Homo sapiens: one gene and its partners. The protein of the gene in region 3 purifies or fractionates together with the protein of the main gene of each other region. This does not show direct contact. Each region holds a gene or a part of one and is shown on either strand. Other genes may lie near its edges. The genes, in order: BTBD2, DDB2, COPS3 and CUL4B.

The links.
Region 1: the proteins of COPS3 (region 3) and BTBD2 purify together in Homo sapiens (affinity purification with mass spectrometry; 5 studies listed by BioGRID and IntAct, with this or other methods). This does not show direct contact.
Region 2: the proteins of COPS3 (region 3) and DDB2 purify together in Homo sapiens (affinity purification with mass spectrometry; 7 studies listed by BioGRID and IntAct, with this or other methods). This does not show direct contact.
Region 4: the proteins of COPS3 (region 3) and CUL4B purify together in Homo sapiens (affinity purification with mass spectrometry; 13 studies listed by BioGRID and IntAct, with this or other methods). This does not show direct contact.

The regions. Positions count from the first base shown.
Region 1 is NC_000019.10:2,012,701-2,020,417, reverse strand, and holds the start of BTBD2 (BTB/POZ domain-containing protein 2), read left to right. Parts: upstream 1-4,703; 5' UTR 4,704-4,714; coding exon 4,715-5,121; intron 5,122-6,699; exon of another isoform or gene 6,700-6,871; intron 6,872-7,717.
Region 2 is NC_000011.10:47,217,952-47,224,975, forward strand, and holds part of DDB2 (DNA damage-binding protein 2), read left to right. Parts: intron 1-7,024.
Region 3 is NC_000017.11:17,264,242-17,271,265, reverse strand, and holds part of COPS3 (COP9 signalosome complex subunit 3), read left to right. Parts: intron 1-257; coding exon 258-370; intron 371-458; coding exon 459-508; intron 509-3,220; exon of another isoform or gene 3,221-3,288; coding exon 3,289-3,381; intron 3,382-6,284; coding exon 6,285-6,464; intron 6,465-7,024. UniProt on the Homo sapiens protein: Component of the COP9 signalosome complex (CSN), a complex involved in various cellular and developmental processes.
Region 4 is NC_000023.11:120,529,950-120,536,973, forward strand, and holds part of CUL4B (cullin-4B), read right to left. Parts: coding exon 6,978-7,024; intron 5,995-6,977; coding exon 5,881-5,994; intron 4,638-5,880; coding exon 4,532-4,637; intron 2,646-4,531; coding exon 2,473-2,645; intron 306-2,472; coding exon 153-305; intron 1-152.

The DNA of each region.
Region 1 (7,717 bases), on a different chromosome or scaffold from region 3:
TGCAAGCTCCGCCTCCTGAGTTCTTGATATTCTCCTGCCTCAGCCTCCCGAGTAGCTGGGACTACAGGCGCCCACCACCACGCCCGGCTAATATTTTGTATTTTTAGTAGAGACGGGGTTTCACCGTGTTAGCCAGGATGGTCTTGAACACCGTCTCCCGGGTTCAAGCGATTCTCCTGCTTCAGCCTCTCAAAGTGCTAGGATTACAGGTGTGAGCCACCACGCCTGGCCGCGAGAGACTCTTTAAAAAAAAAAAAATTAGTCATGGTGGTGCGCGCCTGTGGTCCCAGCTACTCAGGAGGCTGAGGCGGGAGGATCACTTGAGCCCAGGAGGTGGAGGCTGCAGTGAGCTGTGACCGCACCATTGCAGTCCAGCCCTGGAAGATAGAGCGAGACTTTGCAGAAAAAAGAAGGAAGGAAGGAAGGAAGGAAGGAAAAAAGAAAGAAAGAAAGGAACAAGAAAGAAAGCAAGCCAGCCAAAGAAAGAAAGCCAGCCAGCCTGAGTGTCCTGGAGTCAGAGAAGAGGAAAGGGGACCGTGGGAGGGAAGAAATGACATCCCACCCTCCTGGCCAAGGATGGTTCTATTATGTGAACTGCACACTTCTCTGGAAATGAATGGAAATCCAGCAATCAGCTTGGTGACGAGCGCCCTCTAGACGCCATCACCGCATAGACAGGGCTGGGATTGGTTCCAGAAACCCGGGGAAAACTCAAAAACGCTCAAAACGCACTGCCAGGGGCAGGTGTTGGCTCAATAGCCAGCAAAAAAAAAAAAAAAAAAAAAAAAAAAAAAAAAAGCACTGACAAAGGACAAAAAGGCTCCGCAAGCTTCCCTTGCCAGCCCTAGGGCTGAGGTGGACTCATGTTTCTGCCTTCATAGATAATCTCCATCCGTAATATGTTTAGGTCTAGTGAGAGGTATGGTTTACTTACAGCGAATGCACAAATCTTAAGCGTAGTTTGGTTAATTTAGGCAAATGCATGAACCTGTATCACTCACACCCCTCTCAAAATCACATGGGCCGGGTGCGGTGGCTCCCGCCTGTAATCCCAGTATTTTGGGAGGCCAAGATGGGCAGATCAGGAGGTCAGGAGATCGAGACCATCCTGGCTAACACGGTGAAACTCCGTCTCTACTAAAAATACAAAAAAATTAGCCGGGCGTGGTGGCAGGCGCCTGTAGTCCCAGCTACTTGGGAGGCTGAGGCAGAAGAATGGTGTTAACCCGGGAGGCAGAGCTTGCAGTGAGCCGAGATCGCGCCACTGCACTCCAGCTTGGGCGACAGAGCAAGACTCTGTCTCAAGAAAAAAAAAAAAAAAAAAAAAATCTCCACATGGCCGAGTGGTTCACACCTGTAATCCCAGCGTTTTGGGAGGCCTAGCGAGAAGATTGCTTGAGCCTAGGAGTTCATGAGCAGCCTGGGCGACAAAGTGAGATCCCGTGTGTGTGTGTGCCTGTGTGTGCGCGCACGCGTGCGTGTGTGTTAGGCAGGGCCTCACTTTGTCGCCCAGGCTGGAGTGCAGTGGCACAATCTCAGCCTCCCCAGCTGTAGCCATCCTCCCACTTCAGCCTCCCAAAAGCTGGGACTACCGGCACACACCAGAACACCTTGTTAATTTTGTATTTTTTTGTGGAGACAGGGTTTCACTATGTTGGCCAGGCTGGTCTCGAACTCCTGAACTCAAGTAATCTGCCTGCCTCGGCCTCCGAAAGTGCTGGGATTACAGGCGTGAGCTACCATGGCTGGCCTACAGCTCTTTAAAAAAAAAAAAGTCCAGGCGCGGTGGCTCACATCTGTAATCCCAGCACTTTAGGAGGCCGAGGTGGGCGGATCACGAGGTCAGGAGATAGAGACCATCCTGGCTAACACGATGAAACCCCGACTCTACTAAAAATACAAAAAAAAAAAAAAAATTAGCCGGGCATGGTGGCAGGCGCCTGTAGTCCCAGCTACTCGGGGGGCTGAGGCAGGAGAATGGCATGAACCTGGAAGGCAGAGCTTACAGTGAGCCGAGATTGCACCACTGCACTCTGGCCTGGGTGGCAGAACGAGACTCCATCTCAAAAAAAAAAAAAAAAAAAAAAAAAAAAAAAATCGTGAACATCTCAGCATTCCGTAAAGTTCACCCTTTCCTCAGACAACCTACCATTTTGTTAATTTCTGTCACCATGGCAGGTATGCCTGTTCTGCACCTTCATCTAGAAGGGACTGCACAGATGTCCTCTTTAGGATTTGGCTGGAAAGATGTCACTTTGCAAATGTATGAGATGAGAGATAAGAAAGTTGACATTTAGAGGCCGGCTGTGATGGCTCCCGCCTGTAATCCCAGCACTTGGGGAGGCCAAGGCAGGCGGATCACCTGAGGTCGGGAGTTCGAGACCAGCCTGACCAACATGGAGAAACCCCGTCTCTACTAAAAATACAAAATTAGCCGGGCGTGGTGGTGCATGTAATCCCAGCTACTCAGGAGGCTGAGGCAGGAGAATCGCTTGAATCCGGGAGGCGGAGGTTGTGGTGAGCTGAGATCGTGCCACTGCACTCCAGCCTGGGCGACAGAGCAAGACTGTCTCAAAAAAAAAAAAAAAAAAAAAAAAAAATATATATATATATATATATATGTATATACATACACACACACACATATAAAATTAGCCAGGCATGGTGGCAGGCGCCTGTAGTTCCAGCTACTCGGGAGGCTGAGGCAGGAGAATGGCGTGAATCTGGGAGGCGGAGCTTACAGTGAGCCAAGATCGCGCCACTGCACTCCAGCCTGGGCGACAGAACGAGACTGTCTCAAAAACAAAACAAACAAACAAAAAAAAATTAGCCTTAGCCAGGCGTGGTGGCGGGTACCTGTAACCCCAGCTACTCAGGAGGCTGAGGCGGGAGAATTGCTTGAACCAGGAGGCTGAGATTGCAGTGAGCCAAGATCGCCATCACTGCACCCCAGCCTGGGCAATAGAGGGAGACTCTAAAAAGAAAAAAGAAAAAAGAAAAAAAAATTGTAACTACCTCAACCACCCACTCTGGAGAACTGAAAATAGCATTATCACTTGGGTTTTTTTAATACCCTATTTTCTTTTTCTTCTTTGTTTTTTTTTTTTTTCGAGACAGGATCTTGCTCTGTTGCCCAGGCTGGAGGGCAGTGGTGGAGTCATAGCTCATCAAAAGCTCAACCTTCCAGGCTCAAGTGATGCTTCCGTCTCAGCCTTCTGAGTAGCTGGGACAACAGGTGCGTACCACCACGCCTAGTTTTTTTTTTGTTTTGTTTTGTTTGTTTGTTTGTTTGTTTGAGACGGAGTTTTGTTCTTGTTGTTCAGGCTGGAGTGCAATGGCGCGGTCTCGGCTCACTGCAACCTCCGCCTCCCAGGTTCAAGTGATTCTCCTGCCTCAGCCTCCCGAGTAGCTGGGATTACAGGCACCCGCCACCAAGCCTGGCTAATTTTCGTATTTTTAGTAGAGATGGGGTTTCACCATGATGGGGTTTCACCAGGATGGTCTCGATCTCCCGACCTGGTGATCCGCCCGCCTCGGCCTCCCAAAGTGCTGGGATTACAGACGTGAGCCACCGCGCCTGGCTAATTTTTGTATTTTTTGTAGAGACAGGGTTTTGCCATGTTGCCCAGGCTGGTCTCCAACTCTTGACCTTAGGTGATGCACCCCCCGCCTTGGCCTCCTGAAGTGCTGGGATTACAGGCGTGAGCCACTGCGCCCGACCTGGTTCCTCAATCTTTGTGGCATTTGTCTACCTTGACATTATGTATGTAGTAAGCGTTTTGGGGGAGTCCCAGCTCCGTCCACACTGACCACCCCCCACACCTGGCCTGGAGAGGGTGCTGGGCGTCTGCTGAGTGTCAGTGCACGTGGCCTGCATCCTGCTCGCTCATCCGCAGCTTCCCGGCCTCAGGCTATGTCTCTGTACAGCGGAGCCTGCGCCACGGAGCAGGCCCGCCACCTGGGTCCGGGGTCTGGGGTCTGGAGTTTGCGCTTGGTCTTTGGGTTGGGGGTTCCGGGTCTGAGGTATGGGATCTGGAATCCGGAGTCTGAAGTCTGGGGTTCAGAGTCTGGGATCTAGGATTCAAGGTCTGAGGCCTGGGATCCCGGACTGAGGTCTGTGCTCCAGGGTTTAGGATTCCCGGTCTGGAGTCTGGGGCCTGGTGCCTGGACCCCAAATTCTGGACCTCGGTCTGGAGTCTGGGCTTCAGGTCAGGATGCTTAGGGAGTGGAGCAAGAGGTCTTCCACCAGCTCCTCCCCTCTACAGGCCCCTCCTACTCTTCCCTCTCCTCCCCGTCCCCTCCCCTGCAACAGCCTCCCCCATTCACCTCCCTTCTCCCCTCCCTCCTCCCCTCCCACCTCCCCTCCTTTCCCCTCCCTCTCCTCCCCTCCCTCCTTCCCCCTCCTTTCCCCTCCCTCTCCTCCCCTCCCTCCTTCCCCCTCCTTTCCCCTCCCTCTCCTCCCCTCCCTCCTTCCCCCTCCTTTCCCCTCCCTCTCCTCCCCTCCCTCCTTCCCCCTCCTTTCCCCTCCCTCTCCTCCCCTCCCTCCTTCCCGCTTCCCCTCCCCTCCCTCCTCCCCTCCTTTCCCCTCCCTCCTCTTTTCCCCTCCCCTCCCTCCTCCCCCTCCTCCCCCTACTCTCCTCCTTTCCCCTCCCTCCTTCCCTCCTCCCCTCCCTCCTTCCCTCCTCCCCTCCCCCGCCCACGCCGCAGCCACAAAATGGCGGCGGGTGGGAGCGGCGGGCGTGCGTCGTGCCCGCCGGGGGTCGGGGTCGGCCCGGGCACGGGGGGCAGTCCCGGGCCCAGCGCCAACGCCGCCGCCACCCCGGCCCCCGGCAACGCGGCCGCCGCCGCCGCCGCCGCCGCCGCCGCCGCCGCCGCCCCTGGGCCGACGCCGCCCGCCCCGCCGGGCCCCGGGACAGACGCGCAGGCCGCGGGCGCGGAGCGGGCGGAGGAGGCGGCGGGCCCGGGGGCGGCGGCGCTGCAGCGCGAGGCCGCGTACAACTGGCAGGCCAGCAAGCCCACCGTGCAGGAGCGCTTCGCCTTCCTCTTCAACAACGAGGTGCTGTGCGACGTGCACTTCCTGGTGGGCAAGGGGCTCAGCTCGCAGCGCATCCCCGCGCACAGGTGGGCGCCCCGACCCCGCCAGCCCTGGCCCCGACCCACCCAGCCTGCTGCCCGGGCCCTGCACCTGAGGCCCTGCACCCCTCTGTCCCCGAGACCCCCGCACCCCTCCATCCCCGAGCCCTGCACCCCTCTGTCCCCGGGACCCCTGCACCCCTGCATCCTCAGGCTCCGAACCCAACTCGGCCTGCACCCCGGGGCCTGCACCTGAGGCCCTGCACCCCTCTGTCCCTGGGACCCCTGCACCCCTCCGGTCCTGAAACCGACCCGGCCTGCACCCCGGGGCCTGCACCCTTCCATCCCTAGACTCCACCCAGTTCCCTGGGCTCTGCACCCCTCTGTCCCTGCCTCTGCACCTCTCTGTCCCCAGACCCCACCAGGCCTGCACTCTGGGCCTCTGCACCCCTCCATCCCCAGGCCCCCCTGGATCCTCCACCTCTGGCTTGCGCCCCCAGCCTGTTCCCCGGGATCCCAGGCCCTGTACCCCTGGGACCCCTGCTCTCCTCCGTCCCTGGACCCACCCAGCCTGCACTCCGGTACCCTCCGTTCCTGGGACCCTCCAACTCGGCCTGCACTTGGAGCCCCTGGGCCCCTCCATCCTCAAACCCCACCCAGCCCGCACCCCAGAACCCTGAATACCCCATCCTCAGGGCCCTCCACCCCCCGCCTGCACCCTAGGACCCTCCATTCTTCCATCCCCAGGACGCTCCATCCCTGGACCTCACCCCTCCCTGCACCCCAGGTCCCCAGACACCTCTGCCCCCAGATCCCTGGGCCCCTCCACCTCCGGCTGGAACCCCTGCCTACACCCCAGGCCCCTCCATCCCTGGACCCCACCTGGCCTGCATCCCTGGGTCCCCTCCATGCCCTGGCCCTGCACCCCCACCCACCACCCCTGGGACTCCTGTGACCCTCCAACCCTGGGACGTGTACCCCTATCTGCTCCTCCATTCCCAGGACCCCAACCCACTGTTTCTAGGACCCATGACCCCACATGCCACACCCCTCCATCCCTATACCCGGGGATCCTCAGGACCCCTCCATCCCCAGGCCCTGCACCCTTGCCTGCCGCCCCTCTCCCCCTGGGACCCCTACTGGTGACCCCTCCGTCCCTGTACCCAGGGACTCTCCAGGACCCCTCCTTCCCCAGGTCCTTCACCCCTGCCCACTGCCCTTCCACTCTCTACTCCCGGGGCCCCCTGGGACCCCACTACACTCAAGTGTGTCACCCCTGCATCCCAGGATGGAGAGACTTCTCCGCTCTCACCTGAGACCCCCCGTCCCCAGTCCTCACCACCTCAGTCCGTAACCCCCAACCTATGACTCCTGAACTCCAGGACCCCTCCCTTCAGGGGTCGTGCTATTTCCTCCACCCCCACCCATGACCACAAGACCCCTCCCTCTTCCCCCACCATCCAGGGACCCTGCCACTCCCACCCGCACCCCTGTGCGCCAAGACCCCTAGGCCTTGCTCCCTGCGTCCTCCCTGCTGCCTCCAGACCCAGTGACCCCCACCGGAGACCCCCAGGCTCAGCACATGATCTGGATCAGAGACCTTCAAACCATGCTGCTCCCCTCCAGGGATACCCCCTGCCCGCCCTGCAGTCCAGATCATAGACTACCATCCACAGCCCCTCCAGCCCCGGACCCCCACCTCAGCCAGAGACCCCTGGGCCCTGCCACCTCCCACTTCAGTGACCACCCACCTCCAGCTCCGCCACTGCCAGGCTCTGGACCCTGGACTCTGCAGAAGGTTGTCTCCCCTGGGCCCTGCTACCCCCTGCACCCCATCCTATGATCCCCTGCCACCAGGCCACCACCCTAGACCCCTGCCCAGACTCCCATCTCCGGGCCCTTCCAACCCAGAGACCCCCAGCTCCGGGGTCCCTCCCTCCCCAGCCCCCAGCCCTCCTTTCTGGGAAAGAAGTGGGTTTGGCCCAGTATCTGTCTTTGCCAGTGTGCGGGGTACCGGCCCCAGGCCCCAGGTTCCCTCCACTCCCCGGTCCCTCTTACCCTGCCCCTCATTGGTCGGGGGCAGGGGCTGGGTTTTCTTGCTGCGGGCACTGGAGGGGGAGGGTCCTGCCCTCCCTTCTGACCTTCGGGTGCTTTTGTTAACGTGTTCTGGCTTCTTCCTGGGTGTTTATGGGCAGCTGGGTCTCCTTTCGTGGGGTCCTGCCCTGGGCGGTACTTAGCAGAGGTTCCTGCCCCTGGAGGGTTCCGGGGCCTCCTACGGCTTGTGCCGTCCGTGTCGCCGTCCCTGTCTCTGTCGTCCTTAGCTGCTGGGCCTCTCCTAGCTTGGAGTGAGGGGCGGTGGGTTTGCTCCCTCCACCTGGGTGGTCTTTGTGCTCTTTGGGGAGGGGGTAGGTTGGATGCAGCTGGAACTCACCCAGCAGCAGGTGCAGCTGGAGAATCCCAGGCTTTCTGTTTGAGGGGGGAGGTGGGGCGCCCCGGGCACCGGCTGACCTTGGGACATGTATGCGATTGCACTTGAGGGACCGCTGGCTCGGTTGCAAAGTGGGGAAGATGGAGGCAGGACAAGGACCCCTTGGAGAAAAGTAGGTGAGGGGTCTGCCCCCGGGGGGCTCAGGAGAGGGCAATG
Region 2 (7,024 bases), on a different chromosome or scaffold from region 3:
CTCACTTCTATGCTGTAGCCACACCAGCTGTTTCTATTCCTGAAACCGGGTCTCTGTAATTGCTGTTCCCTTTGACTGGAGTGCTTTTCCCCCATGGTCTTCTCATGGCTGGCGTCTTCTCTGCAGGTCTTTGCTGATTCTACCTCTTCAAAGAGGCTTTCGCTGGTTGTCCTTACTCATAACGTAGATCCCACTCCTCCACCGTCATTCCCTGTATCATTACCCTGCTTCATGTTTCCCCCAAGTGTTGATGGGTGTCTGAGATCTGATGCTTATTTGTATGTTTGCCCACTGATGGCAGGGACCTTTCCTTTCTGGTTCACCATCCTATTCCCAGTGCCTGGAACAAAGTTTGGCCTAGAGTAGCTGCTTTATATTTGTTGAATGAGTGAGGGGCTTGAAGTGTAATTGAGCAGATGGGATGTATACATACGAGGTAATTAACAATACAGATGCCAAGTGCTACAGAATGTGAAAGAAGGAAGAACCCCTTGTGAATTGGAGTCAATAAAGAAGACTCCATGGATGAGCGAGGAGGAGCAGTATTAGATAAATGGAGAGAAAAGAAGGAAAGACATAGTGTGACTGGGTGAGGTTTGGCACAGAGTTCTTGGGAATGGTCTTTGTTGTGCTAGAGTTTATCATCCATTGCTGAGGGGTGAGTGTGTCGTCCCCTCTAGGACCTTTAGCCAGCCCAGCTGGTGGCTGACATTGGAGGGCTGTGCTGTGAAAAGTGACACTGGGTTTAGAGCAGGAGTCACAAACTTATAGGGCTCCAGAAGCCAGAGTGGAAAAAAAAAAAAAAAGAATGTATGGTGGTAGGGTCAGGGGTAAACTAGAGATGACTGTTGTGCAAAAATGTAGGTCTTTTGATATCAGATGTGATTTTTCTCAAACAAAGACACAAATCCTCATTTTTTAAATGTCATATATCTTGAGTTTTAAAAAAAATTGTAAAATACACGTAACATAAAATGTATCACCTTAACCATTTAAAAGTGTTTTTTTTTTGAGGCGGACTCTCGCTCTGTCACCCAGGCTGGAGTGCAGTGGCGCAATCTTGGCTCACTGCAAGCTCCGCCTCCCGGATTCATGCCATTCTCCTGCCTCAGCCTCCCCAGCAGCTGGGACTGCAGGTGCATGCTGCCACGCCTGGCTAATTTTTGTATTTTTAGTAGAGATGGGGTTTCACCGTGTTAGCCACGATGGTCTCTATCTCCTGACCTTGTGATCTGCCTGCCTCGGCCTCCCAAAGTGCTGGGATTACAGGCGTGAGCCACCGCCCCCAGCCAACTTTTTAAAAAATAATGATAAAATACATATAACATGAAATTTACTTTCGTAACCATTTTAAAGTGCACAGTTCAATGGCGTTGGGTAAATTGTGTAAGCAGTCTCCAGAACTTCATTATTTTTTTTTATTTTTATTTTTTGAGTCTCATTCTGTCACCCAGGCTGGAGTGCAGTGACACAACCATAGCTCACTGCAGCCTCCACCTTCCTGACTCAAGGAATCCTCCGGCTTCAGCCTCCCATGTATCAGGGACTACAGGTACGCACCACCATGCCTGGCTAATTTTTAGAGATGTGGTCTCTCTATATTGCCCAGGCTGGTCTCAAACTACTGGCCTCAAGCAATCCTTCTGTCTTGTCTTCCCAAATTGCTCGGGATTACAGGGCTGAGCCACTGTGCTGGGCCTCTAGAACGTCTTAATATTGGCACTGAATGAAACTAAACACACGTCTCAGCCGAATTCTGCTTCAGTCCACTATTTTTCTAGCTCTGGTTTAAAGGTAGACATGAGGGGGAACCCAGGAGGAGGTCTCTTTATTTATTTATTTGTTTATTTTTTTGAGATGGAGTCTCACTCCGCCGCCCAGGCTGGAGTGCAGTGGCGCAATCTCGGCTCACTGCAAGCTCCGCCTCCCAGGTTCACGCGATTCTCCTGCCTCAGCCTCCGAAGTAGCTGGGACTACTGGTGCCCGCCACCACACCCGGCTACTTTTTTTATATTTTTTAGTGGAGATGGGGTTTCACCGTGTTAGCCATGATGGTCTCGATCTCCTGACCTCGTGATCCGCCCGCCTCGACCTCCCAAAGTGCTGGGATTACAGGCGTGAGCCACTGCACCCAGCCAGCAGGAGGTCTCTTAAGTGGAGGGATTTGGAGAGCAGACCACCAGAAAAGGCCAGGTTAGACAGGTGTGGGAGACTGGAATTCAAAGTGTGAGATGGGTGTTCAAGGAACAAGTGCCAGAAGCCCCCAGAAAGGCAGTCAGAGGAGTGCCGCGGACAGAGTGGGGTAGGTTTCCTGCCCAGCTAAAGAGGCAGGTGACCGCTAATAAGGCAGCTTGAAGTTGAAGTCAGAACCCAGAGCTCAGACAGGAAGAAATTTGTTTTCTTGTTTTCTCCAGGAGTCTAGGACATGGGAATAGAGGAATTTAGCTTATGCCTGGAGATGGGAAGAAGCAGTGTAGGGTATTCTAGGGGAAGAGCTTCCTGACTAACAGGATAATGACAAGTGCTTTGAACTTGTGCCAGACTGAGATTGCTTTTTTTCTTTGTTGCATCACCTTATGACATGCGTGTAACCTTCTTTACAGTGTAAACTTTCTTTACACTGTAATGAAGATTGGTCTAGGCATTGAATTTTGTGGCTTGCATTTGCAGGGAGCTAGGTTGGAGCAGAGGAAGGGTATGGCAGTCTGGAAGAGACCTGTCTGGTTTTACTCCCAGATGCTGACAGCAGAATGCTGATTTGAGACCAGTTACTGGAGGAGCAACAGTGCCTCATTTTGTCACTTCTTTAGTCATCTGACCTTGGCTGTGACCTTTACATTCTTCAGGCCCTTGGCAAGGGAACATGTATTACAGTTTCACAATGAAGATAGCTTAATTTTATTCCTATTATAAAAACAATGTATGGGGCCAGGCGCAGTGGCCCACGCCTGTAATCCCAGCACTTTGGGAGGCCGAGGCGGGTGGATCACCTGAGGTCAGGAGTTCCGAGACCAGCCTGACCAACACATAGTGAAACCCTGTCTCTACTAAAAATACAAAAATTAGCCGGGAGTAGTGGTGCACGTCTGTAGTTCCAGCTACTCAGGAATCTGAGGCAGGAGAATCACTTGAACCTGGGAGGTGGAGGTTGCAGTGAGCTGAGATGGTGCCACTGCACTCCAGCCTGGGCGACACAGTGAGACTCCATCTCTCAAAAAACAAAACAGTGTATTCTTATCATAAAATACAGAGAAAAGTGTAAAAAATAAATTAAATATGATCCAAAATCCCCATTTTCAGCATCCCTCTGTGCATGTGTACACTATTTTTTTTTTTTTCCAAGTCTGAGTCTTGCTCTGTCGCTCAGGCTGGAGTGCAGTGGTGCGATCTCACCTCACTGCAACCTCCGCCTCCTGGGTTCAAGCTATTCTCCTTCCTCAGCCTCCCGAGTAGCTGGGATTACAGGCATGCACCACCACACCAGCTAATTTTTGTTTTGTTTTGTTTTTTTAAGACAGAGTTTCACTCTATTGCCCAGGCTGGAGTGCAGTAGCACGATCTCGGCCCACTGCAACCTCTGCCTCCTGAGTTGAAATGATTCTCCTGCCTCAGCCTCCTGAGTAGCTGGGATTACAGGAGCCTACCACCATGCCCAGCTAATTTTTGTATTTTTAGTAGAGACGGGGTTTCACCGTGTTGGCCAGGCTCGTCTTGAACTCCTGGCCTAAGGTGATCCACCTGCCTTGGCCTCCCAAAGTGCTGGCATTACAGGTGTGAGCCACCGTGCCCAGCCTGAATTTTATATTTTTGGTAGAAACAGGGTTTCACCATATTGGCCAGGCTGGTCTCGAACTCCTGACCTCAAGTGATCCGCCCGCCTCGGCCTCCCAAAATGCTGGGATTACAGGCACGAGCCACTGCACCCGGCCTGGGTTTTTAAAATTATATCTTTATTGAGGTATAGTGGACATAAACTGCAGCTATTTCAAGTGTACAATTTGGCTATTCTCAGCCTATGGGGTAGTCCTACTCCAGAGAAGCAGTAAGAAAAAAAGAATAAATTGTACAATTCCATGAGTTTTGACATATGTGTACAACTGTGAAGCCATCACCACAATTAAAATAACTCCCATTTCCCCACCCTTTGTTGAATATTTGGAGAGTGATAGATAGATGAGTTATCTATGCCCCTTTGTAATCCACCCCTCTCTACCCAATATCTTATTCACTGTAAACTGCTGATCTATTTTTTATTTTTAGAAATTAATTTACATTTTCTAGAACTATATATAAATAGAATCATAGAATATATGGTCTTTTATTTTTGTTCTAGCTTGTTTCAGTATAATTATTTGAAATTTATCTACATTTTTATGTGTAGTTTTTTTTTTCTTTCTGAATAATGGTTCATTGTTTTTTGTTTTAAGACAGGGTCTTGCTGTGTCACCCAGGGATGATCATGGTTCAGCATAGCCTCAACCTCCTCAGCTCAAGCGATTCTCCCACCTCAGCCTCCTGAGTAGCTGGCACTACATGCACAGGCCACCATACCTGGCTAATTTTAAAATTTTGTTATAGAGACAGAGGTCTCACTGTGTTGCACAGGCTGGTTTCAAACTCCTGGCCTCAAGCTATCCTCCTGCCTTAGCCTCCCAAAGTGCCGGGATTATAGGCGTGAGCCCCTGCACCCAGCCACATTGTACTGATATGATACAGTTTATTCATTTACCTGTTCAAGGACATTTGAATTTTTTTCTAGTTTTTGAATGCAACATATAAAGCGACTGTGAACATTCACGTACAAGTATTTGTGTGGATATATGTTTTCATTTTTCTTGGGTAAATACTTAGCAGTGGAATGGCTGGATTATAGAGTAGGAATGTTTTAAAGATACTTTTTAAATGAGAAAAGGTTTTTCTATTTGCCCACATATTGTCATTTCCAGTGCTTTCATTCTTTCATGTGATCCAGATTTCCTTTTGGTAATATTTTCTTTCTGCCTGAAGAAATTCCTTTCATATTTCTTATAATGCAGATTGGTGATAAATACTTTCCACTGTTGTTTATCTAGAAAAGTATTTTGCCTTTATTTTGAGGGAGGATGTTTTTGCTAAGTATAGAATTCTAGGTTCACAGTTTTTAAAATTATTTAACTTTTATTTTTTAATTGGTAAATTAAAATTGTATTTTATTGCATACAATATATTTGTTCACAGTTTTCTCCTGTCAGTACTTTAAAGATGATGTCTAGGCTGGGCGCTGTGGCTTACGCCTGTAATCCCAGCATTTTGGGGGGCCAAGGCAAGTGGATCATTTGCGATCATGAGTTTTAGACCAGCCTGGCTAACATGGTGAAACCCCGCCTCTACTAAAAATACAAAAATTAGCTGGGTGTGGTGGCGCTCACCAGTAATCCCAGCTACCCGGGAGGCTGAGGCATGAGAATCTTGAACCTGGGAGGCAGAGGTTGCAGTGAGCCGAGATGGTGTCACTGCACTCCATTCTGGGTGACAGAGCAAGACTGTGTCTCAAAAATAAATAAATAAGGCTGGGCGCGGTGGCTGACACCTGTAATCCCAGCGCTTTGGGAGGCCGAGGCAGGCGGATCACGAGATCAAGAGATTGAGACCACCCTGGCTAACACGGTGAAACCCTGTCTGTTCTAAAAATACAAAAAAAATTAGCCAGGCGTGGTGGTGGGCGCCTGTAGTCCCAGCTACTTGGGAGGCTGAGGCAGGAGAATGGTGTGAACCCAGGAGGCAGAGCTGGCAGTGAGCCGAGATCGGCCACTTCACTCCAGCCTGGGTGACAGAGCAAGACTCCGTCTAAAATAAATAAATAAATAAAGAATAAAAATAAAGATGATTTCTAGTTGGGCTCAATGGTTCATGCCTGTAATCTCAACACTTTGAGAGGCTGAGGCTGGGGGACCTCTTGAGGCCAGGACTTTAAGACCAGCCTAGGAAACACAGCAAGACCCCATCTCTACAAAAAAATCTTAAAAATTAGCTAGTGGCTTGAACTTGTAGTTCCAGCTGTTCAGGAGGCTGAGGTGGGAGAATTGCTTAAGCCCAGGGGGACAAGGCTTCAGTGAGCTAGGCAAGCCTGGGTGACAGAGCAAGATCCTGTCTCAATTAAAAACAAAACAAAACAAAACATCCTGATGAGAAGTCTGCTACTATCCTTATGTTCCTGTCTATGTAATTTTTCTTCTGGTCGCTTTAAAAATGATTATGATGTGCTTGTGGGGGGATCACTAAGCTTCTTTGATTTATGGATTTTTTTTTTCTTTTGAGACAAAGTCTCACTCTGTCGCCCAGGCTGGTGTGCAGTGCCACAATCTCGGCTCACTGCAACCTCCACCTCCAGGGTTCAAGCGATTCTCCCTGCCTCAGCCTCCCGAGTAGCTGGGATTACAGGTGCCCACCACCTCACCTGGCTAATTTTTGTATTTATTTATTTTTATTTTATTTTTTTAGTAGAGACAGGGTTTCACCATGTTGGCCAGGCTGGTCTTGAACTCCTGACCTCCAGTGATCCGCCCACCTTGGCCTCCTGAAGTGCTGGGATTACAGGCGTGAGCCACCTTGCCCAGCCCATTATTTCTTACAAAGAGTTCAAAATGAAGAAAAAGAACAGTTCTTTTTTTCTTGGGACTGCGATTACATATGGTCCTGCAGGTGGTTGATGCACTGTTCATTTTTGTCTTTTTCCCTGTTTCATTTTGTGCAGTTGTTCACTGATCTTTACTTCTGTAATATCTAACCTTCTGCTGTCAATCCCTCCCTCCCTCCCTCCCTTCGTTCCTTTCTCTCTCTTCTCTTCCTCTTCCTTTTCTCTTCTCTTTCTTGCCTGTGCAGAGCAGGGCTGCTCCATAGGCAAAGTAGCCCAGCGTATTTTTCATTTCAGATACTGTATATCCCCTCTAGAAGTTTAATTTGGATTTTTTTTCATGTCTTCCATTTCTCTCCTCATATTTATTATTTCCTCTTCTTTCTTTTTTGAGATGAGGTCTCACTCTCT
Region 3 (7,024 bases):
TAGAGACAGGGTCTCACCATGTTGCTCAGACTGGTCTCAAACTCCTGGCCTTAAGCAGTCCTCCTGCCTCAGCCTCCCAAAGTGCTTGGATTACGGGCATGAGCCACTGTCCTGGCCTAGTTCTTAATTCTAAAAAATACTGTTGCTCATTTAATTTTACAGAGTATTGGAGGCAGGATGGATTTCTTGCATACATTGTTTCTGTATTTTATCCCATGAACTATCAGGGTAATTTGATTCTTTTCTCCTTATTCTAGGTTTGTGAAGTTTTCTATGCCCAGTGTTCCTGACTTCGAAACGCTATTCTCACAGGTTCAGCTCTTCATCAGCACTTGTAATGGGGAGCACATTCGATATGCAACAGACACTTGTAAGCTAAATAACATTTTATTCTCCATTGAAAATATTTTGCCCTTGTGGTTATATTTATATTTTGAATATTTTGTTATTGTATCTAGTTGCTGGGCTTTGCCATCAGCTAACAAATGCACTTGTGGAAAGAAAACAGGTAAGAAATACTATTCAAGTATTCCTAGTTTTGTTATAATATGTAACTAGCTTACACAATGAATTACTTTATCAAGATTCCAGTTAGTACTGAGCATCCACCACCTAGATATCTGTGGTCACTTGAGAGCACTCACAGCCATTGCTGTAAGCTCAGGCAGTCCCCGCATCCCCTGAATGAGGTGGAGGCACGGGGTGGTTTGGCACCTCAGGGAGGCTGCTGCTGGAACTACCAAGTAGTTGGAATTACCAAGCCAGTACCCTTTATGTTGTAATATGCTGGGTTTTGTCTGTTACATTTTTTCTTTTAACTTTTAATTAGGACATTATTTTAGCCTTACAAAAAGCTTCAAAAATAATATAAAAAATTCTCATACATTTTACCTAGATTTTCCAAATGTTAACATTTTACCGCACTTATTCTTTTTTTTTTCTCTTCCTCTTTTATTCTGAGCCATTGTAGAGTAAGTTGCACATATGCTATTGCTGTTCTTTATCCCTAAATACTTCAGTGGGTAAAGCCTAAAAATTAGGACATTCTGTTACATAGTATAGTGTAATGGTCAGCATCCAGAAATGAACTCTTACTGTTTTTTTTTTTGGAGACAGAGTCTCGCTCTGATGCCTAGGCTGGAGTGCAGTGGCGCCATCTCTGGTCACTGCAACCTCCACCTCCCAGGTTCAAGCAATTCTTCTGCCTCAGCCTCCTGAGTAGCTGGGGACTACAGGTGCATGCTGCCACGCCCAGCTAATTTTTTGTATTTTAGTAGAGACGGGGTTTCACCATGTTGCCAGGCTGGTCTCGAACTCCTGAGCTCAGGCAATCCTCCCGCCTTGGCCTCCCAAAGTGCCAGGATTACAGGCGTGAGCCACCACGCCCGGCCCAGAAATGAACGTTAATATAATGCATCAACAAATTGACAGACCCCATTTAGATTTTCCCCCAGTGAAAAGGACTGTCTTTTGCTATAAAAGGACATTAGCTGTTTGGACAGTGTACTATATATTATATAGCAAAAGAAAACCGTGGACCATGGATTGCATTAGACTGCTTTGTTTCTTTAGTGTCCCTTAATCTGAACAGTTATTTCATTCTTTATCTTTTATAATACATAATTTATAATGTGGATTTTTAAAAAATTTATTTAGTTATTTATTTTTTTGAAATGGAGTCTCATTCTGTTGCCTAGGCTGGAGTGCAGTGGTGTGATCTCAGCTCACTGCAACCTCCACCTTCCAGCTTCAGGCGATTCTCGTGCCTCAGCCTCCTGAGTAGCTGGGACTACAGGCGCATGTCACCTTTCCCAGCTGATTTTTGTTTTGTTTTGTTTTTTGAGACAGAGTCTCGCTCTGTCACCCAGGCTGGAGTGCAATGGCGCAATCTCGGCTCACTGCAACTTCCGCCTCCTGGGTTCAAGCAGTTCTTCTGCCTCAGCCTCCCAAGTAGCTGGGATTACAGGTGCCTGACACCATGCCCGGCTAATTTTTGTATTTTTAGTAGAGACAGGGTTTCACCATGTTTGCCAGGCTGGTGTCAAACTCCTGACCACAGGCGATCCGCCTGCCTCGGCCTCCCAGTGATTTTTGTATTTTTAATAGAGGTGAGGTTTTGCCATGTTGGCCAGGCTAGCCTCTAGAACTCCTGACCTCTGGTGATCCGCCTGCTTCAGCCTCCCAAAGGGCTGAGATTACAGGTGTGAGCCACTTCACCCAGCCAGGTGTTTCTTTTTAATTTGAAAGTAAATTTAAGATTAGTGGTTTGAAAGAGGCTGAAAATAGAACCAGTTGTTATTTTGTAGTACTAAGTAACCATGTTTGAAAGAGATGGTTAAGAAAAATCATGAGTTTTTGAAAAAGCTGTAAGTTATTGAGCTATTTTTAGTCTCTTCACATATATATATATATATTTTTGTTGTTGTTGTTGTTGTTGTTGTTTTTTTGAGATGGGGTCTTGCTCTGTTGCCCAGGCTGGAGTGCAGTGGCGCGATCTCAGCTCACTGCAACCTCCGCCTCCCGGGTTCAAGCGATTCTCCTGCCTCAGCCTCCTGAGTAGCTGGGACCACAGGCACATCCCACCATGCCCGGCTAATTTTTGTATTTTTAGTAGACATGGGGTTTTGCCATGTTGGCCAGGATAATCTTGATCTCCTGACCTCATGATCCACCCATCTTGGCCTCCCAAAATGCTGGGATTACAGGTGTGAGCCACCGTGCCCAGCAATTTTGGAAGAGACTATATTTTAGTCTGCCAAAAACTGATTATGCCTTACTTGACACTTGGTCTTCTTATTTATAATCAGGGCAGGAAACAGTCCTTTTGAAATCTATGGTGTTAGTTTTGGTAGTAATTTACTACCAGGTAAGGGGTAGACTGCCCTATGGGAAAATGCCAACACCCTTAGCCACAAGTAATTTTCCTAAGCATAGGCTGTTGTCTCTTGTATAATAAGTGATTTGGAAAGTTTTCATTTGTTTAGATGTTAATATAATAAACTGTTGAGAAAGTAATACTGTTTTTGATTATTGATCTTCATTGTAAAAATAAAAGCTTTTTATGATTTAAAAAATGGTGCTGAGTTATCTAAAAATTCCAAGAAACAGCTTAAGAAAAGTTTTCTGACTTAAATGGGACAGAAATTTCCTGAAAGAGTATGGAAACCTCATATTGCTATTTAAAGGAACCTATCAATTAGTGTTATTTTTTATTTATAAGTGACAACATAAGATCCAATGTGCTGCCATCTTTGAGAACTTATCTGAAAGAGATGTCATTTCTGACAGCCCCTGCGAGGAATTGGCATCCTTAAGCAAGCCATAGACAAGATGCAGATGAATACAAACCAGCTGACCTCAATACATGCTGATCTCTGCCAGGTAAGCAACCAAAGTGTGTGATTCACACCAAGTCAGAGGTGTAGGTTGTTTATGGGCTTGCTCAACATTGGGTTTGATAAACACAGGCAAGTTGGCGATATTGTGATGTGTTATAGAAGTTGGAATATGTAGGTACATCTATTACATTCAGGCGGGTGCTGGATGCAAACTGTAGGATGGGGCTCAACTAGTAAGCTTGTCGAACAGATAGGGTAATTAATAGTTGTAACTTTTTTTTTTTTTTTTTTTGAGACAGTCTCACTTTGTCGCCCATGCTGGAGTGCAGTGGCACAATCTCAGCTCACTGCAACCTCTGCCTCCCGGGTTCAAGCAATTCTCCTGCCTCAGCCTCTCGCGTAGCTGAGACTACAAGCACCCACCACCAAGCCTAGCTAATTTTTGTATTTTTAGTAGAACAGGGTTTCACCATGTTGGCCAGGCTGGCGTTGAACTCCTGACCTCATGATCCACCCGCCTCAGCCTCCCAAAGTGCTAGGATTACAGGTGTGAGCCACCACACCCGGCCCTAGTTGTAACTTTTTTTTTTTTTTTTTTTTGAGACGGAGTCTTGCTCTGTCGCCCAGGCTGGCGCCATCTCAGCTCACTGCAAGCTCCGCCTCCCGGGTTCACGCCATTCTCCCGCCTCAGCCTCCCGAGTAGCTGGGACTACAGGCGCCCGCTATCACGCCTGGCTAATTTTTTTGTATTTTTAGTAGACACGGGGTTTTACTGTGTTAGCCAGAATGGTCTCAATCTCCTGACGTCGTGATCCGCTCGCCTCAGCCTCCCAAAGTGCTGGGATTACAGGCGTGAGCCACTGTGCCCGGCCTGTAACTTTTTTTAAAATCCCGAATCATTTTTTTAAAATTGTGGAGCCTGCCAGGTGCAGTGGTTCACGCCTGTAATCCCAACACTTTGGGAGGCTGAGGCGGGCGGATCACCTGAGGTCCGGAGTTCCAGACCAGCCTGACCAACATGGAGAAATCCCATCTCTACTAAAAAAAAATTGTGGAACCTGAGACTTAACATAGCTAACTTCTTACACCTTAAAATGTTATTCATTTATCTTTTTTTTTTTTATTTTTTGAGATGGAGTCTTGCTCTGTTGCCCAGGCTGGAGTGCAGTGGCATGATCTAGGCTCACTGCAAGCTCCGCCTCCCAGGTTCAAGCAATTCTCCTTCCTCAGCCTCCTGAGTAGCTGGGATTGTGGACGTGCACCACTACACCCGGCTAATTTTTGTATTTTTAGTAGAGATGGGGTTTCACCATTTTGGTCAGGCTGGTCTTGAACTCCTGACTTCAAGCGATCCGCCCACCTCAGCCTCCCAAAGTGCTGGGATTACAGGTGTGAACCACCGTGCCTGGCCTCATTTATTTATCTTATTTTGCGATGTTCAAAGTCCAGAAGGCAAAAGGGCAGGTATATAATGAAGTCTCCTTCCCATTCTGTTTGCTAGCCATCTATTTCTTCTCTACAAAGGAAACTATGTTAGTTATTTCTCGTGTATCCTTCCAAAAACTTTTTATGGACATAAAAGCAAATACGAATATATATTTTCTCATTTTTTACACAAATTGTAATAATCTATGCATACTCTTATGTAGCTTGCTTTTTGTATTTAACATATCTTGGAGATGATTCTGTAGCAGTACTCTACAGGTACGGAGTATTCTATAATATGAGTATGCGATGGTTTTAGAAGTCTGCATGGGATATTTACATTGTTTCCTTCAAGAATAACATGGTATGTGGATTATTTCAAACACATGTTCTAGTTTCATATGAAGATGTGCTTTTTAATGTTTTAAAAAAATTGTGATTGAGGTACAACATATAGACAGTAAAATACTAAAGTGTATAGCTCAGTGAGTTTGTACGCATGTCTACACTGCGTCTCCATTAGCTAGATAACTGTTCTAAGGGCTTGCTTTCTTGAGTTGCACAATTCCCTGTATTTACCTAAAGGATTAATTAAAGGAACCACTTCTACTTGTATCACACCATGCTGGTCTCTTTCTATTCCACTAGTTCAGTAAAGAAAGAGGACACACTCTTTTTCCCTCTAATCAGATGGGTAGGGATAGGTTAAGAGATAAGTGAGTCTTGTCTGTAGAGTTCTCTATTCTCAATCATCTATAGCATGCTTGGCCTTATAGCTGTTTAGCTTTTTATAAAGAAATGCTCCCCCAGGTGAGGTGGCTCACGCCTGTAATCCTAGCACATTCGGAGGCCAAGGTGGACGGATCACTTGAGGTCAGGAGTTCGAGACCAGCCTGGCTAATGTGGTGAAACCCTGTCTCTACTAAAAATACAAAAATTAGCTGGGTGTGGTGGTGCACGCCTGTAATCCCAGCTACTCGGGAGGCTAATGCAGGAGAATCACTTGAACCCGGGAGGTGGAGGTTGCAGTGAGCTGAGATGACGCCACTGCACTCCAGCCTGTGTGACAGAGTGAGACTCCATTTCAAAAAAAAAAAAAAAGGTAATGCTGTTTTTTTCTGAATGGCTAAGAAAATGGAGTACAGGTTGACTATTCCTAATCTGAAAATTTGAAACCCAATCCAAAAATTTGAAACCCAAAATGCTCCAAAATCTGAAATCTTTAGAATGCCAACTTGGCACTCAAAGTGCTCATTGGAGCAATTGGATTTCAGGTTTTCAGATTAGGGATGCTTAACTGGTATGTATTCTGCAAATATTCCAAAATTTGAAACACTTGTGGTCCTAAGCATTTCAGATAGCAGATACATGAAATGTGTTGACATTTAGATAATTTTAGTCAATAAAATGTAAAACACAATTACATTATTTGGAAATTTCTGGAATCAATGAATTTTCTCCTTCTGCTAATACCTGCCTAAGTAAAATTAAAGTGATGATTTAATATCAATTTGTTCACAGCTTTGTTTGCTAGCAAAATGCTTTAAGCCTGCCCTTCCATATCTTGACGTGGATATGATGGATATCTGTAAAGAGAATGGAGCCTATGATGCAAAACACTTTTTATGTTACTATTATTATGGAGGGATGATCTATACTGGGCTGAAGAACTTTGAAAGAGCTCTCTACTTTTATGAACAGGTAATCTCTCTAAAAATTAGCTGAGGTTGTTCTGAACTTGTGTGATCAAAAAAGTGCTCCCATAGGTTTGTGGCTAGAGTGGTCTGATCCCAGGGCCTCCGTTTCAGGTGTTGGTCCTTTCAGAGACTACTTCTCTGTGATCATGTAAATAGTGGTAACCTGATCCCTAAGTTGAGGAGCAGCGCCAGTGCATAGAAGAGCACTTGTCTGGGGGTTCTAATCTAGGCTTGCACTTATACCTTATCTGATTTGGAATAAGTTATGACATCTCTTGACCTTTATAGCTTCCTTTGCATATAAGGAAGAGATTGAACTGAGTGATCTTGGTTGTGTCTTATTCTAAAACCATGTGTGGTATTTTGTTAAGTTTTATTTAATCAGTGAAACATTCTCTTGATTCAAAATTTAAAGGGTAGAAAGGAGTACACAGTAAAAGTCCCTCCCACCCTTTCTGTGTCTGTGTAATGAAACATAGTACACAATTTGGTAGAATATTCTGGAGGTTTACTCAGACTCTGAAAAAGAGATACACAATATTGATTAATAAACCACTTTACTTA
Region 4 (7,024 bases), on a different chromosome or scaffold from region 3:
TTTTGGAAATCATATGCATCAACATGGGAAATTAAAACTTTTCTCTCTCTAAATGGTCATGACGCTTTATGTTTGCAAGATTTGTGTCTGAAAATCTAATGTACTTTCTTTTATTTATAACACGCTCAATAGGAAAACACAGAAGTACCTACCTTTACTGGAAATTTCAACTGGTTGTACACTTCTGAAACAAGGAGATTGTGGCTAAGTGTCTTTCTCATCTTCATAATTCGAACAATTGCAGCATCAATTTGATACTGTCTGTCTTGAAATACTCTTTCTGTAGTGCTTGCTTGTTCTTCAACCTAACAAAAAAGTTTTAAACCTAGGAATTATACCAGAAGCAAAACCTGACTATTTACATAAATTGTGCATTTTAGGGACATGACATTGTTATTGCTTTAAAGGTACTGAATTATCTAAATGGGGTCTTATAAATATAGATGCTGACAGAGAAAAATCCTACAAACATAACTCCTTTCTGTTCTGATTATATTGCCCTATACCAATGAAGTAATGCTAATATTAGTTAATAGAAAAACATCATCTTTGAATTGCTTTTCTAGAAGTAGAGATAGCTGATGTGGAATTTACCATTTTGTTTTTTTACTCTGTCTTTGATATATCTTCTAAATGTGTGTATCAGTTTCAATGGATTGTTAACCAGATTTCTCTATGACAATAGCTTGTCTATAAGGTGACTCTGTCTGATCTCTGACTCAAGGCATGGTATTAACTGGCTAAGCAAACTAGTTAAGAGTCAACCTCTTTGAAAATTAATTTTTATTTTGTAATATATAAATCAGACATGCATGCCATTAGTGCTTACAATCCTTCAAGACTTACAGAAATGTAGGTATTTAGGAGGCGGTTTACCAATCTTGATGCTAAAGTAAAAATGTTCATCTTTAGTAATTAAACCAAAAAAACAGTTTGGCCTTTTTGCAGCAGTTTCTTCCTGGTACAGCATAAATGTTTTAAAAGTAAGGACATGGTAATCCTTTAAGAAAATATCCTGTCTTTGATGTGTATGTGAAAATGACAGGAACTTGTTTGGAGATACTGGTCGCTGTCCTACATTAAAATTTTTTCAGTCGGGCTCAGTGGCTCACACCTATAATTCCAGCACTTTGGGAGGCCGAGATGGGCGGATCATGAGGTCAGGAGTTCAAGACCTGCCTGGTCAATATGGTGAAAACCCATCTCTACTTAAAATACAAAAATTAGCCGGGCATGGTCGCTCACGCATGTAGTCCCAGCTACTCAGGAGGCTGAGGCAGGATAATCGCTTGAACCTGGAAGGCGGAGGCTGCAGTGAGCCAAGATCGTGCCACTGACTCCAGCCTGGGTGACAGAGTGAGACTCCACCTCAAAAAAAAAATTTTTTTTTTTTCAAATATTGCATTAAACCTTATTGGAACTGAAACCATCAGTTTCAGGATGCTGCAGTTGGAAGTCTCTTACAAATTCAAATGGCAAAAACAAACAAAATATTCACCTTCCCTGTTTTTGTTTTTTTTTTCTTTTTTTTAAACAGAGTCTCACTGTCACCCAGGCTGCAGTGCAGTGGCGCGATCTCAGCTCACTGCAACCTCCACATCCCGGGTTCAGGTGATTCTCATGCCTCAGCCTCCCAAGTAGCTGGGACTACAAGCACGCACCACCACGCCCAGCTGATTTTTGTATTTTTAGTAGAGACAGGGTATCGCCATGTTGGCCAAGCTGGTTTTGAACTCCTGACCTCAGGTGATCTGCCCGCCTCGGCCTCCCAAGGTACTGGGATTACAGGTGTGAACCACCGTACCTGGCCCACCTTCACTGTTAATCAAATAAATAGTGAATAAATCAATTCAGATTTTTCACCAAGCAAGTTGGCAAAAGAAAATATAATCTTTAGTGCTGGGGGACATAGTAAGACAGGCTCTCATATGCTGCTGGACAGAGTATAAACTGGTCCAGCCTTTCCGGAACACAATATGACATTATGTACTAAGACTCCTAAAATGTTCATACCCTTTAACCCAAAAAAATCTACTTCCACAAATTTATCATATATCAGAGATTAAAATTTAGTTTCAAAGAGGTTTCTTGCAATCTTATTTATAATACTAATAAGTCATGAATTTAATTGCCCCAAAATGAACAGTGGTTGAACAAACTATAAGAGCCATGTAAAAATATTACACTGCCATCTGCCATTTTTCGAAGCTATTTAATGGCATGGAAAAATTCTAAAGATTGAATACTAAATAAACAAAGTAAGATATGAAACTATGTTGAGTATCATCTCAATCCTGTACAACCACTCTCCCAAACACCCAAAATCAAATCAGGAAACATATTTAGCTGGACATAGACACAAAAAATATTAATGGTATTGGCAGTATTACAGGTATAAAAATCTTTATATATTTTGATTATTAACATGTATAATTCCAGTGTGTTAGGACTAAGAGAAAGTGAAAGAAATACCGTTTCTTTCATCTGGATTTGATTGATCTTTATCCTGAAAAGTTTATGTTTGAAATCATCATTACAAATGAACTTGTCACCATCTTCAATGTCTTTGCCCTTTGGATTTTTCGCCAGAACTCTAGCTTTGCCACAGGCTAATGACTGCAGTGTTCTCCTTAACTCTCCATCCTCTGAAGAAGAAACAGAGGTTTAGTTATTTGTTACCAGCATGAACAACTACGACATTCTACCTCAATCTAGCTTCCACTCCATCCCCCTATTAAAACTATTTCATTTTTTCCCAAAGGTCACCAACAACTTTTCTTTGTTCTAGCCAATGGCTTTTTTCCTAGTCCTCTTCTTTTTTAAAAAAAATAGAGGCGGGGTTTCACCATGTTGCCCAGGCTGGTCTCAAACTCCTGAGCTCAAGTGATCCACCCGCCTTGGCCTCCCAAAGTGCTGGGATTACAGATGTGAGCCACCACGCCCGGCCCCTAGTCCTCTTTTAAAGACGTCAATTATCATACCATGTGGGCAACTACCAAATATTCCAAAATGACATTTCACTTCTCTCCAGTTGCACGTTTAAAGGGCAATTCCGCCTGGCTGTTTTACTATCAACTGTAGTTACGTCCAAAATTTGATTCATCATCTCCATATAACTGTGTCCTCTTTCCAATTGTCAGTGGTGATACCACTAACCTTCTCAGTTGGGAAACCCTAAAATCATCTTTTAACTTTTCCTTCTCCTTCATCCTCAACATAATAGCTAGCCGCTGCTTCCGCAGAGATGAGTTTTCTCCATTTTCATGGTCTCATTCTAGTCTAAGTCCCTTCTACTTTATGCCTGAATCATCCCAATAGCATCTAAACTGGAATCCCTTGATCCTTCCAGTTGCCCTGTAGATTGATTTCAGTAAGTGGTCCAAATAATTACTTCCACCATGCCACATAGTTGAGACACTACAGTGTAGGTTTCATTTGCTAGACTTATCAGGTTCTCCACAATCAGGCCCTACTCATCTTACCTAATTTTTTAACTCACTATTCTATGTTACAATTAAGCTCTTCATGATTCTTCATGATTCTATGCTACAATTAAGCTCTTCATGGGCCTATACTGTGCCCATTCCTACCTCCCAACCTCATCTCAAAATATTTCCCCTTGCTGTATATGCCTTCTCCCTGACCAAAACTTGAAGGCCCAGCTCAAATGCCACTTGCTTCATGACAGCTTTCCCAATTGTGCCAGTCCACGGTGATCTCTTGCTTTGTTGCACTCTTACCACACTTATAGTCAGTACCACAAGCCAGTACTTATGGGTTTTGACATTATTTCAAGTGTCATTTCCCCCTTTCCCTATGGTTATATAAAGAGTTCTGGCCAGGCGCGGTGGCTCACACCTGTAATCCCAGCACTTTGGTAGGCCGAGGCAGGCGGATCACGAGGTCAGGAGTTCGAGACCAGCCTGGCCAACATGGTGAAACCCCGTCTCTACTAAAAATACAAACATTAGCCAGGTGTGGTGGCAGGCGCCTGTAATCCCAGCTACTCGGGAGGCAGAGGCAGGAGAATTGCTTGAACACAGGAGGCAGAGGTTGCAGTGAGCCGAGATCGCGCCACTGCACTCCAGCCTGGGTGACAGAGCAAGATTCCGTCTTGAGGGGAAAAAAAAAGAGTTCTGGCTGGCTGCAGGGGCTCATGCCTGTAATTGCAGTACTTAGGGAGGCTGAGGCAGGAAGACCCCTTGAGCCCAGGAGTTTGAGACCAGGCTAAGCAACATAGTGAGACCCTGTCTCTACAAAAAAAAATTTTAAAAATTAGCCAGGCACGGTGGCATGCACTTGTAGTCCCATCTGCTTGGCAGGCTGAGGCAGGAGAATCACTTGAGCCTGAGCCATGATTGTACCACTGGACCCCAGCCTGGGTGACAGAGTGAGACCCTGTCTCATTAAAAAAAAAGAAAAAAAAAACTCAAAACAGTTCTGAGGCAAGGAATTATTCCTATAAATATGTCCCCCAGACCTCTTAACATAGTGGTGTGCACATAGTGAACAATTAATGTTTGCTACAAACCTATTCCAGTTGCCTGCTTGATCTCTTCTAAACTGAACTCCTCTCCCTCATTAAACATTAGCAGCACCAGTGTTTGAAAAAGAGAGACCTGGAGTTCCTTTTTACCCTGTTGAAGAAATAAAAGTGTTTAGTCATCACTTTTTTAAAAACACATGAAAAATTAATCATCTCTTATAGGAAAAGCATTTTTCAATTAGTGGATTTAGAAACATGATTAGCATTATCCAGCAAAGCCACTTGACGTGGTAATACAGTATTTCAGTGTGAGGTTTAGGTGTGACCCTACCTAAAATAGGGGGAAGGATTAGCTGACCTTTTAACAGTTTTTTTTTAAGCCTTATAAATAGAATACAGTAATGAAAATTAATCAGCCTTATGTGTCATTCTAGATATTCATCACAAGCAGCAAGAAATCACTATTTCAAATGTATTTTTGATTTGTTTGGCTCAGATTAGTCATGAAAAGCTAAAGTTTTTTGAGATTAGATATTGCACACTGTTTCCCTTAACTCCCACTCTATTCGTAGCTCCCAGCAACAAGATTTCTGTCAAGAAGTGGCAGTGTTAGACTAAGTGTAGTTGCTCATGCCTGTAATCCCAGCACTTTAGGAAGCGGAGGCAGGGGGATAGCTTGAGCCCATGAGTTTGAGGTTACAGTGAACTATGATTGTGCCACTGTACTCCTGCCTGGGTGACAGAGTGGGACCCTATCTCTAAAAATAAACAAATAAATAAAAATAGGAAGTGGCAGTGTACAGTTTTCATCCACAGGTGAGGAAAGGGTAGGGGGAAAGTTCACTGCTTTTCATTTTGCAGAAGGGCCAAATCAATCGTGGAAAGACCACACACCTAAAATTACTTAAAAATACATAAAGCTATGACAAACTATCACTGTCATCATGCGGATATCTAGGATACAATTATAAAACAACAGCTTAAACTGGCCAGATGCGGTGGTTCACACCTGTAATCCCAGCACTTTAGGAGGCCGAGGCGCGTGGATCACAAGGTCAAGAGACAGAGACCATCCTGGCCAACATGGTGAAACCCCGTCTCCACTAAAAATACAAAAAAAATTAGCTGGGTATGGTGGCGCACGCCTGTAGTCCCAGCCACTCGGGAGGCTGAGGCAGGAGAATCACCTGAACCCAGGAGGCAGAGGTTGCGGTGAGCCAAGATAGCGCCACTGCACTCCACTCTGGTGACAGAGTGAGACTCTGTCTCAAAAAAAAAAAAAAAAAAAAAAAAGAAGAAAACAAAAAACAATAGCCTAAACTTTCAGTTAAGAAGGATGACCTAAACATTAAAGATAAAGATGAAAACTAAAAGTTTTGGGAACATCCACTTACCTCTTTAAATTCTGCTTTTAACACACAGTGTCCTAGGGTTGACTGCCACTGAAGTTTCCTGCCACTATGTTTGCCTAGGTAAAATGTCTTGAAAATCTCCTGAAGTTTTACCATCTAAAGTAAATAAAATAAGGCTTTATTTAAGCTCTGTATCCAATACCACATTTACCATTTTTATACTTACCTCATGTGATATAGTTTCTGGAAAATTTTAAGACTATATCCAGTAGGTCCACCAATCACTTTGATGAAAAACAATGATCTCCCAACCACCAAATCAAATGGGATTTATTAGGATTTATACCTTTTGCTCTCTCTGAACATTTAATCATCCCCTCTTTTGAAACATTCACCTGCAGCAGCTTTTGTGCCTCTGCACTATGCTGCTTCCTTTATTTCACTGTTGCTTCTGCATTGGTTTCCTTCACAGGTTCCTCTTTCTACCATCTGCCAAATGTGAGCCTTTTCTAAAGTTCTGCCTCTGCTGTTTTTTCTTCCTCTTTGAGAGAAATCTACTCCCTGGGCCTTCATAATCATCTCCATGGAGGATTCTCAATATCTATCTGTCTAGCCTTAATCCCTTTTATGGGCTTCAGTCCTGGACTAGACAGTTTACCAGGAGTCAGGATAGATTTAATCAAGGACCCATCATTTAGCAATCCCACCTATGGGTGAAATATGTGCAAGAATTCTTAATAGCTAGGTAGAGTGAGGGGTATAACCTGGGAAGATGGAAGAAGAGCCAGGGAAATTGACCCTGAACCCAGAAATTTGGCATTATTAGCTATGTGCTTAACTGGACTTCTAAGTACAAAAGTAAAACATTAAAGCAGTTGGTATTTGGTGTTGGTGCGCTTACTGACATACACTTTTAAAAGTATCCATGCCAAGCCTGGTGACTTACACCTGTAATCCCAGCACTTCGGAAGGCTGAGGCGGGGGGGATCACTTGAGCCCAAGAGTTCAAGACCAGCCTGAGCAATACAGCGAGACCCTGGGTCTCTATTTTTTTCTAAGTATCTATTTTTAAATGACAAGCAAAATGGAAATGCTATGATTTCTATGCCTATAACTCAGTTCTAAACAGTAACTCTTACCTCTGGTGGTAAATGAACTTCCATAGGCACATATGTCGGCCAATAGC